2 separate regions of the Homo sapiens genome follow, and region 1 is linked to region 2. The links come from fine-mapping of genetic effects on gene expression. A gene starts in region 2. The other region holds a variant in brackets. All regions are shown on one strand. Distances are between the middles of the regions. Region 1 overlaps TMEM43 (transmembrane protein 43). Region 2 holds the start of XPC (XPC complex subunit, DNA damage recognition and repair factor).

Region 1 (5,370 bases), 44 kb before region 2:
GTCTTGGGGCTGGTGTAGAGAAGGCATCTGCCGTATCTGGGGAGTCTGATCTGGTAGCCCTGAGGTTGCTTCCTGCTCAGATGCTTAGAGATTAGACTGCCTGGGGCGACGAGGCTAACCCCCGTGGCTGCTTTGCTTTCCCTGCAGGGAGTACACCGAGGATGGGCAGGTGAAGAAGGAGACGAGGTATTCCTACAGTGAGTGCTGGGCCCCTTACGTGGTCTCTGCCCATGGTGGGGGCCCACAGTGGTGGCTGGACAGCAGGGCTGTTGGTGGGGCCATGGGAAGGATTCAGCACCAGGCATCAGGATCCCTGGGTGCAAGTCTTCAGAGCCCTGCTTTCCCACCCATCCATTGAGGCTCCCTGACCCACCCCTTTGGCTGTGAGATAGGAGGAGCTGGGCTGGTGGGTCTCAGCCGCGTGCCACTCCTACCCGGGCTCTGAGTTGATTCCTCTCCCTGAGCAGACACTGAATGGAGGTCAGAAATCATCAACAGCAAAAACTTCGACCGAGAGATTGGCCACAAAAACCCCAGGTGAGAGCCAGGCCCAAGGCCTGAGTGCAGCTTTGTCTACACTGGCAGGTCTCCAGCCTCAGTTTCTTCATCTGAATAACAGGATTGAGTTAATCCTGCCTCGTGGGTTGAAAATGTGGGACATGGGTTTGAGACCAAGCCCTGTGCTGGGCACCAGGAACACAGAGACTTGTCTCCCCTGACCCCAGACAAGCTCCCCGCAAACAAGTCACAAATATAAGGCCTGCACTAAGCGTCTAAGGGGATTTGCACACACGGGGCCGGGGAAGCATTTTGTTAATGGTTTGCCATGGGTGGGAGGACAATCAGGACAGGCTTTCCAGAGGCAGCGGCATTTGTTCAGGCTTCTCAGGATTTCAGCAGAGGGAGGTTAGCTCCACGGCATGCCAGTGGTGAGGCGGGCATAACACTTGGGTGTGGCTAGAGAGCAGGCCTTGTTCAGCAATGGTCTGGGCTGTGCCAGTAAGATGGTTGGGATGGAATGCTCTGGGAGGGGCTAGTGAGGGGTGTAAAGTCCATGCAAGATACATCTGACAGCAGTGGGTGGGGCAGGACAGGCTGGCAGGGGTCTAGGCAAGAGGGTAGGAAGCTCCGGGGAACAGGAGACAGAGTGAGGGTGCTCAGCCCAGGGGAGGGGGCACAGGGCCCCTGGGGGTGGACAGGACAAGATGTCTGCTGCGCCTGGGCTAATCTGGACTTGCAGGAACCCCCGGGTGGGGACCCTGCCCAGCACAAACAACCCAAAGGGACCCGGGCAGCTCCCACACCGGTGCCCATCTCTGACAGCTTCCTCTCTCCCACAGTGCCATGGCAGTGGAGTCATTCATGGCAACAGCCCCCTTTGTCCAAATTGGCAGGTTTTTCCTCTCGTCAGGTAAGTCTCAGGCCTCTCCAGAGGAGCTCGTGCCAGAAGCACAAGGCCCCCCTAGGGCCGGAGCTCCCAGTACTCAGCCTTCAGAGGGCTAAAGGCACAGGATCAGTCTGCACCTTTCCCAGCACCATGCTTTGGGGGCCAGGGGAAGGCGAATCCCCAGGAAGCAAGGGCTGACGTAGAAACCCCCACCCCACTCCATCCTACCAGGTTCCTCTGAAATCTGGGTTGTTCCAGAGAATGACTCAGGCATGCATCCTCACCCTGCTGCGTGCCGGTGTCTGCTGAGTAGACTCTGCTGAGACAGTCCTTCCTCAAGCAGACTCCGGCTAGTAGTAGACATGTGGTGGCTCAGTGCTCTCAGCCTAGGGCTCCCCCTCTCTGAGTTCCACCTGTCCCAGGAAGGCACTAGCTTATCACAGGCATCCCCCATTGACTCCAAAGAGAAGCTTGCAAGGGATAAGGTGGCACCATGGGCCAGAGTAACCCTGGGGCTCTGTTCCTGGGCCTGACCCATGAAGGTGGGAGAGGATACCAAGGGCCCAGATAGTCCTGGGGAGGCTGGATGATCCTGGGCCTGGCCTGGCCGCTTTCTGTGTGCTTTGTTGCTGGATGGTGCCTGTGTGCCAGCTGGGCCTGCCCTCAAGTAGCTCTCAACCCAGGAGGTGAGTCAGGCTTGGACGTGGATGGCCGTAACCTTGATGGAAGGGAAAAGGGCTAAGGCCACTCCCAGTGCTGTGGTCACTCTGACTTGGTGGGAGAGGGCACAGGGAAAGCTTCCTGGAGGAGATGGTCTAACCCAGGGGAAGCCGTGGACGAGACAGAGTCAGAAAGAGGCACTGCAGGTGGGAGTGCCACGTGTGCAGGCTCCAGGGGTGCAGTGGAAGGGGGTCAGGCCAGGGACTTTGCAGATTGAGGTTTTCACCTGGTCCCCTGGGTTTCTAACCACTCTGGTCCCCTCAGGCCTCATCGACAAAGTCGACAACTTCAAGTCCCTGAGCCTATCCAAGCTGGAGGACCCTCATGTGGACATCATTCGCCGTGGAGACTTTTTCTACCACAGCGAAAATCCCAAGTATCCAGAGGTGTGCGGAGAGGCCTGGGCTCTCCAAATAGGAGGGTCAGGGCGCTAGGATCAGGTTCCTGCGCCAGGCAGATTCAGTTCAGTCGCATGCACAGCTGCACTTGGCCAAGTGCAGCTGAGTGGGAGAGGCCCTCTGGGTGACGGCACAGCCTGGGCACGGGTGTGGAGGTGGGAGAAGAGCCTGAGGGGCGTAGCCGAGGCATCCTGGACCTGGGCCTGGGCCAGCTACTCCGTTCCTCACTCTCCCTGCTTCTCTTCCACCCCCAGGTGGGAGACTTGCGTGTCTCCTTTTCCTATGCTGGACTGAGCGGCGATGACCCTGACCTGGGCCCAGCTCACGTGGTAACCTGGCTTCCCAGGGGCAGACACTAAGTCAGAGCCTCACGACTTTCCTGGACACAGACACCTTGGTCAATGTCAGGAGCGCTTGGACCCCCTTTTCCCTGGGGAAAGGCACACTCTCGCACACACTCTCAGCCAGGCACGCTTCTGAGCAGTTTCAGAGCTCCCATGTCCCCACAGCCATCCATGGACCCCACGTTAAGAAGGGCAGCTCAAAAGGGGTCTCATAGTCGCACCTTATGACAGGTGTTCCAGTCACACACAGACCCTCTCCCCAAGCCCGTTTTGATCTGTCAATAATTGGTCTTGCGTTCCTGGCCTATGTGCAGTCCTGCCCCATCCCCTGCTCTGCGCACTGCCCAAGAGCTTTGAATGCCTGGAGCTTTGAATGGAGCAGCTCAGCCAGAGCTGCAGAGGTGGATGCATCCCAGATGGATGTATAGAGAGAGAAGCCCCAGGGT[T/C]TCTGTGCTCACTTCCCCAGCCGGCACCCAGTCCCGGGAGGGTGGGCCATGGCTCTCGTGGGCGTGTCTCCCGCTGGTCACCCCTCAGCTCTAACACCAGGTCCTCTGACCAGGTCACTGTGATTGCCCGGCAGCGGGGTGACCAGCTAGTCCCATTCTCCACCAAGTCTGGGGATACCTTACTGCTCCTGCACCACGGGGACTTCTCAGCAGAGGTGAGTGCTGTGCCCTACTCGTACGGTGGAGGAACAAGCATGTCCTTCCTTCCTTCCAGTGGTTATTTAATAAGATCACACTACCAGGGGTCATAGCCAGTGAATGAGGCAAGAAGAAGAAATAGCGGAATGTTGAGTATGCCTCATCAAAGTGTTTGACCAGGAGTGTTTCAGATTCCAGATTTTTTTGGATTTGCAGGTATTTGTATATACATAATGAGATCTCTTGGGGATGAGAACCAAGTCTAAACACAGAATCTATTTATGTTTCATGTATACTTTGTACACATCGCCTGAAGGTGATTTTATACAATGCAACCCGTCACATGGGGTCAAGTGTGGGATTTCCACTAGTGGCGTCATGTTGGCATTCAGAAAGTTTTGGATTTTGGAGCACTTCAGCATTTGGGTTTTTGGATTGTGGATGCTGAGTCTGTCATGAACCCTCAGTGTGCAGGACTGTGCTAGGCACTAAACTCACTGTGCCTCACAGACTGTCCGGTAGAGGAGTGAGAGTGACAGAAACTCGTAAGTACTGATGCATCGTGCCGAGTGTTGGAAAGAGGAGAACAGGTGCTCTGATACCAGTGGACGTCAGAGTAGAACATCCGTTTCTGCAGTGATCAAGCAGGGCCTCTGACAAGTGAGTTTTGCTGACGAGAAGGGGTTAACCCTAGAAGAATCAGTGATCAGTCAGTTCCAGCAAGAACAGCCCAGTCTGGGCACGAAAGGGTTCACCTTCTAAGGGGGCACCCGGAGTGCTGTGGCCACAGCCCAGAGCGGGGAGAGGGAGTGGGTGGGGGGGCTCCACCAAAGTCTGTGTCCTTCCAGAACATTAGGAGGGCGGGGAAGGGTTTTGGGCCTCAGCTACCTGAGTATCCCTCTCCCATTGTAAATAGGGAGGGCTATGCCTACCCCGGGTCCCAAGGAGAAGGGGTGCCAAGATGTGCTGATTAGTTCAGTTCTGTGCCTTAAAAGTTAGCCTGTCTTCTCTAGGCAGGCAATCCTTCTCTGCAGCAGAAGAATTGAGTCTTTAGTTTTTCTGTTGTTGATGAACACAGGTATCCCTGGTGGGGCACTCTATACCTGCCCTAACCAGGACTGCTGGGGTTTTCATTCCAGAGTGGCCAGAAAGGGTCAAGGCAGCAGACAGGCATCAGGGGTTAGCTGTGACCTTTTGTTCCTATTATTAGATCCTCAGCAGCCATCTGTCCCATTAGCCTCCAGCTTGTGGTGGTGCTTGGGCCTCACCAACTCCTGGTACCTGGCCAGGGCTAGGGTGTGGTCAGGCTGTTGCCCAGGAGCCCAGTTACCAACCTCAGGGTAGGGCTGCCACCTCCCAGCCTAGAAGGCCATGAGTCACCCTTCCACCAGCAGCTGAGGGTCCCCAGCGAGTTTCTAAAATTAGGAGGCCCAGTCCAGGCCTTGCTCTCTCTCCCAGGGCTGAGGCCCAGCTCACGCAGCCGCCCCTCCAGAGAGGAGTGGATGGGGCCCATGGCTTAGGTAATGCCCCAGAAAGGAAGGCCCTGCAGTGCAGATGCTCAGGCGGCCTCCTTACCCCCTGGGTCTCCTGCTGCTTAGCAGCCCCAAAGCCCTGTCTTCCCCCAGCCCAGCCCCCACCCCCACACAAGGTCTGGGGTCTCTGCCAAGTAGAAAAAAGGCCCAGAGCCAGGCAGGCAGCTCAGGGCAAAAGTCAGGATGCCCCGATTCCAGTCCCAGGGGCAGGAGAGTACAGCTGCCCAAGCAGGCACACTGCAGACGGCCCTGGCACTGCCTCCCACCTGCTACAGGACCTTGAGCTGGTGCTGATCTCTCAGCCTGTTTCCTCATTTGTGAAGGGGAAGATGTTTAAGTACTATT
Region 2 (5,370 bases):
CCTAACATGGGTAAAGCTAAAGCTCTTGGCTTTATATGCTATCCCACTGAAAACTCACAGCCACCCCGCAAGGCAGTTATTACATTTCACAGAGGAAATTCAGAAGGGCTAAAACATTTGTCCAAAATAATTCACCCAAGTGCATAAAACTAAGAATTGAAGCTCTACCAAGCTGGAACCGAGGTGAAGTGTTGAGCTGGGAAGAATACAGGTAGCATTTCCATCAGATTAAAACCGTAAATTTTTAATTGCCATATATCCAAATTACATTCTGACTAGAATACCGGCCCCTTTTTGTGACCCCTTGCTAAAATACCAACCATCCTTTAAATCACAGATCAAACTACTTCAGAGAGCGTTCCCCGATCACGCCAGTCAAACTTGATTAATCCTTTGGAAGCTACAAAGCCTTGTACCTTCTTCCACAATATTTAGCACACTTTGCCTTGAATGTTTTACATGTAAATGTCATGTCAACACTACTCTATGATCCTCCAAGATATGTTTATCTCTCATGTCACCTCATTCATGTACAGCACATAGTAGATACTCAAAAGATGTTATTTGAATGAGTAAATGAGTGAATAAAATGGAACTCGTAATATTACATATGAGGTAAATCACCTCCTAAGTTTACGAATTATTACCATTTCACTATTTCCTAATGGATGATGAATTTATAACCGGTATAGAAACAGAATCTAGTGTGATAGCCTTTGCCGGTTACCTAGTCTAATCTACCCAGTTTTTTCAGGAGACCCAGAAATTCCTTCTACAGCCTGCATTTTGCAATTATTTAAAATATTTACTAGCCGGGCGCAGTGGCTCATGCCTGTAATCCCAACACTTCGGGAGGCCGAGGCAAACGGATCACCTGAGGTCAGGAGTTTGAGACCAGCCTGGCCAACATGGCGAAACCCCATCTATACAAAAATACAAAAATTAGCCGGACATGGTGTCAGGCACCTGTAACACCAGCTACTCGGGAGGCTGAGGCAGGAGAATCACTTGAACCTAGGAGGCGGAGGTCACGCCACTGCACTCCAGCCTCAGCGACAGAGTGAGACACTGTCTCGAAAAAAATAAAAAATAAATAAAATATTTATTTAGCATTTAGCCCTACCAATCCACGGGCCCTGCATCCACAGATTCAACCAACCACAGATGAATATATTTCGGGAAAAAAAATACAAATTTAAAAAATACAGCATGACAACTATTTCCATAGTATCCACATTGTATTAGGTATTATTAGTGATCTAGAGATGATTTAAAGTATGTCGGAGGATGTGCATAGGTTACATGGAAACACTAGGCCATTTGATATAAGGTACTTGAGCATCACAGGTTTTAGTATCCGCGGGGTATCTGGGAAGGACCACCTTAGTTTGCTCAAGGAATGTCTAACTTGAGTTTTGAAGAAATAGAAAAAATCAGCCCTGGTAAAAGCCATGGGGGGTTCACTCTAGGCAGAAGGAACATCAAAGGAAAAGACTCAAGGAATAACTTGGCATATTTGAGGAAGAGAAAGGAGGCCAATAAGGAGGGTATCTGGCAAGGAAACAAGTGGTAAGAGAAACAGGAGAGGTAGCAAGAGCCAAAACATGTAGTATCTTGTAGGCCAGGATAAAACAACTGGATTTTAAGCTAAGAGCAATGGAAAACCAAGGGGAGTTTAAAGCAGGAGCAGGGCATGATTTTTTTTTTTTTTAAGATTATTTGGGTTGCTGGATGCAGAGCTGGGAGGCCAGTAAAGAGGAAACTGCAGTCACTCAACTGAAAGGTGATGATGACTTGGACAGGGGCTGTGGTCATGGAAATGAAGAGAAGTGGACAAATTTGAAATACACTCTTGAGGCTGAACTGACTGGACTTGCTGACGGACTGGATGTGTGGACATAAGAAAAAGGTGGGCTTTGCTTTATAACAAGTATTGAGACTGGAAAAACGGAGGAAAGCATAGATTTAAAGAGGAAAACCATGAGTTCTGCATTGCCCATGACAAATGTAAGAAGCCTATCAAATATCCATGAGGGGAAGTCAGGTGGGATCCCACTGTGGAACTCTGGGTGAGACTCAGCTGAAGTTATCATTCGGGAGTCAGCACACTGCATCACTCTACGTCCTGGTCCGTCCGTCTGTCTTCCTGGGACACAAATAACTGCCTTCTCCGAGTTCAACCCTGAACATCTGTATCCTCTGGACAACGGGGAGCGGGAAAAAAGCTACGCAGGAGCTTGGATCGGGCGAAGCTCGCGGGAAACCGCTCTGGGTGCGCAGGACAAAGACGCGGGGACAGCGGGGAGGGCCGGCCGCAGCCTGCCGGGCTGCCCCCACGGCGCGGAACGCGCGCAGCAACCTCCACCAGGCCTCCGCGTCTGGACTCCCGCCCTGCCTCTGGGCCTCCTCCGCCCACCGGCGGCGTCTCCCGCGAAGCCCGCTGGGCCTCGCTCTCACCCTCCTCCTCCTCCTCACGCCGGGCCTTGCTCTTGGCCTTGGATTTCTGGCTGCGCAGTTCGCGTCCCCGCGGCTCCCCGCCGGCCGCGCGTTTCCGAGCCATGTTGCTTGTCTGGGCAAATTCCACTTCGCGAGTGACGCACCCGGCCGCGATGCGCTAGAACGCCGGCCCCGCCCCGAGGCGGTGCGCTTGGCCACGCCCCTTCGTTGGAGGCCTAGTCACGCCCCTAAAGGAAGCTCCACCCCATACCCGTGGCCACTAAAAAACTGCGGGAAGCAGGAAAGAGCACAACAGGTTTCTCTCTATTTCCGGTGTATTGTATCCTCACGTTTCCGGAGATTGACGTTGCTCTTGTGTTCTCGCGAGAGGCGGGAAAGGGCGCAGGGTTTGAAACATGGCGGACGACGTAGACCAGGTAAGTGTATTTTAAGGAGGTCGCTCGAAGGAGCTTCTTGTACTAGGCTGCTTTTTCCAGACTCAGGAAAAATGGCCAGTCGTGCCTCCTCTCTCCAAGTCACCATGGCCTAATCCACCCTGTCCTTTCCGTAACCCCCCCTCCGAATTTTGCCGTAGGCCCTGAGACCTTTTCCTGTTAGAAGCCCACCTGATGACTATTCTCACACTCTTCGCTTCATTTTTTTAAATCTGTAGATTATTATCCTTAGCTACCTCATGGAGCTGTCAGGATTCCAATAGAAAGCCAGGTAATAAAGTTAGGAGTTGTTATCATTAGTGAGCGCAACAATTATTTATTCATTCAGCAGATAGAGTGAACATCAGCTTTGTATGGTTAGGCACTGTTCTAAGGGCCAGGGACACTGACATCGACATATAAGAGATCCTTGCCATTACTTGGAGCTTATATTTGCGAGGAGAACAGATAAAAGTAAATATAAATATGTAAGACTTCCAGGAACTGTGATGTGCTGTGAAGGAAACAAGGAACTGGTATGCAGAATAACAGATGGTCCTAGAAGCTTTTTCACCTGGTCTTTTTCTTCCTCAAATATCTTTGGAGATCATGCCACAACTTAAACTTTCTACTGAAATCTGACCTCCTCAGAGAGGACTTCTGCCCAAATAGCACTCCCGCTACTCTGGTTACCCTGCCTCATTTTTCTTCATAGAGAGTTATTTTTTCATATTAAATGTATGCATCTTTGTTTAATGTGAATCTCTCCCCACTAGAATGTAAATGCCATAAGAGCAGGGATTTTGTTTTGTTCATTCTTTTGTCTTTGGGGTTTAGAACAGTGCTGGAAACACTCAAAAAATATTTGAGTGAATGAGTTAGATGATCAGAGGAAGCCTCTTTGAGAAGCCAATATTTAAAGCTACAGGATGAAAAGAGCAGACAGTGGGCATCCCAGACAGAGGCTTAGGTAGCAGTAGGGCTTTTTCATGTGCATATTCTTACAGTATTATAATTATTTGTATGCCTCTCCACAGTAGAATGAGCTCCTTGAGGGTGGGGATTGTGACTTCTCTATCATTGTAATCTAACAGTTGGTTATCTGATCCTTTAACAAACACTTGTTGAACTGAGGGACATAGGGACCAGTTGAGTTAGGTTATTTTTTTCTCTCATCAGGCCTTTTGAATCTTCAGAGCCTGTTACCAATTCAGTTACCTTCCTCCACTGGCCTTGTGTACTTACTGAAGAAGCTCTCCTTGAATAATCTTTCTAACTCTTAGCGGCTGCAACCATCCCTTCCATGTGGGTGACCCCAAGTCATCCTAGCCCTGACCTCTAAAACCAATGTTTCCAGCAGTTCTGTAATAATATAATATTAATAGGAATCTTTTCTTTTCCTTTTTTTTTCTATTCTTTTCTTTTTTTTGGATGGAGTCTCACTCTATCGCCCAGGCTGGAGTGCAGTGGCGTGATCTCAGCTCACTGCAACCTCTGCCTCCTGGGTTCAAGTGATTCTCCTGTCTCAGCCTCCCAAGTAGCTGGGACTACAGGTGCGTGCCGCCACACCTGGCTAATTTTTGTATTTTTCGTAGAGATGGGGTTTCACCATGTTGGCCAGGCTGGTCTCAAACTCCTAACCTCAGGTGATCTGCCTTTCTCAGCCGCCCAAAGTGCTGGGATTCAAGCGTGAGCCACCACGCCCGGCCAATAGGAACCATTTCTAAATATTAATATTTTCTGTTTTCCTGGCACTGTTTTTAAATGCATTAACTAGTTTAATCCTCATAAGAACCCAGAAAGAAGGTTGTGGCTTTCTCAATTACAAATGAAGAATCTGAGAATTACAGATGGCATGATTTTTAATCTCAGTTCATAAATGTCAGGTCACAGCCAGGAGTTGAACCCGGACTGCCTGACTCCAAAGCCAGTGCTTGCTTGCCTTTTTTTTTTTTTTTTTTTTTTTTTTTTTTTTTTTTAAAAAAAAAAAAGACAAGAGTCTCACTCTGTTGCCCAAGCTGGAGTGCAGTGGCACGATCTTGGCTCACTGCAACCTCCACCTCGCCAGGCTCAAGCAATCCTCCCACCTCAGCCCTTGGAGTAGCTGGGACTACAGGCATGTGCCACCATGCCCGGCTAAGCCAGTGCTTTCAACCAGTGTTCTATACTGGCTACTAAATATATTTATCTTATTCACCAGTTGGCAGCCTAAACTCAACCTGTGCTGAATTCATAATCTTCCCATAAACCTACACCTCTATTTGGCATTCTGACTAGTGTATGGTAGGCATTAAGTGAGTGTTTTTCCAATGATTACATAATATTTGAGATAAAGCTAAAGTCCCTGAGACCCTATGCCCTGAAATTGGGTCAGGCAGTTTGGATTTTGAGGGAACAAAGTATAGTCATGATTATTTTGCTGTGTAACTTCTCATGTATGTGTGTTTTAACCTACATTTATATAGCACGTATTATGTGAAAAGCTCTGTTCTAAGCCTTC

Evidence for each region. PIP is the estimated chance that this variant, and not a neighbour inherited with it, causes the effect. A credible set is the group of variants that fine-mapping cannot tell apart.
Region 1: its variant is the best candidate, but not a certain one, in a credible set for the expression of XPC in atrial appendage (GTEx, PIP 0.68).

Annotation. Positions count from the first base shown.
Region 1 is chr3:14,132,399-14,137,768 of GRCh38, forward strand. TMEM43 (transmembrane protein 43) reads left to right here. Exons shown (of 12, transcript NM_024334.3): 5 at 148-197; 6 at 468-537; 7 at 1,341-1,411; 8 at 2,372-2,493; 9 at 2,760-2,834; 10 at 3,409-3,510. Among named protein-coding and RNA genes, the nearest start is that of TMEM43, 10 kb to the left of the region's middle. The variant T/C (reference allele first, on the strand shown) is at 3,296.
Region 2 is chr3:14,176,009-14,181,378 of GRCh38, forward strand. It overlaps XPC (XPC complex subunit, DNA damage recognition and repair factor), which reads right to left and starts at 2,593. Exons shown (of 16, transcript NM_004628.5): 1 at 2,458-2,593. The coding sequence starts at 2,560. It overlaps LSM3 (LSM3 homolog, U6 small nuclear RNA and mRNA degradation associated), which reads left to right and starts at 2,809. Exons shown (of 4, transcript NM_014463.3): 1 at 2,809-2,873. The coding sequence starts at 2,853. RefSeq lists a silencer at 2,233-2,352 and enhancers at 2,403-2,752, 2,853-2,902.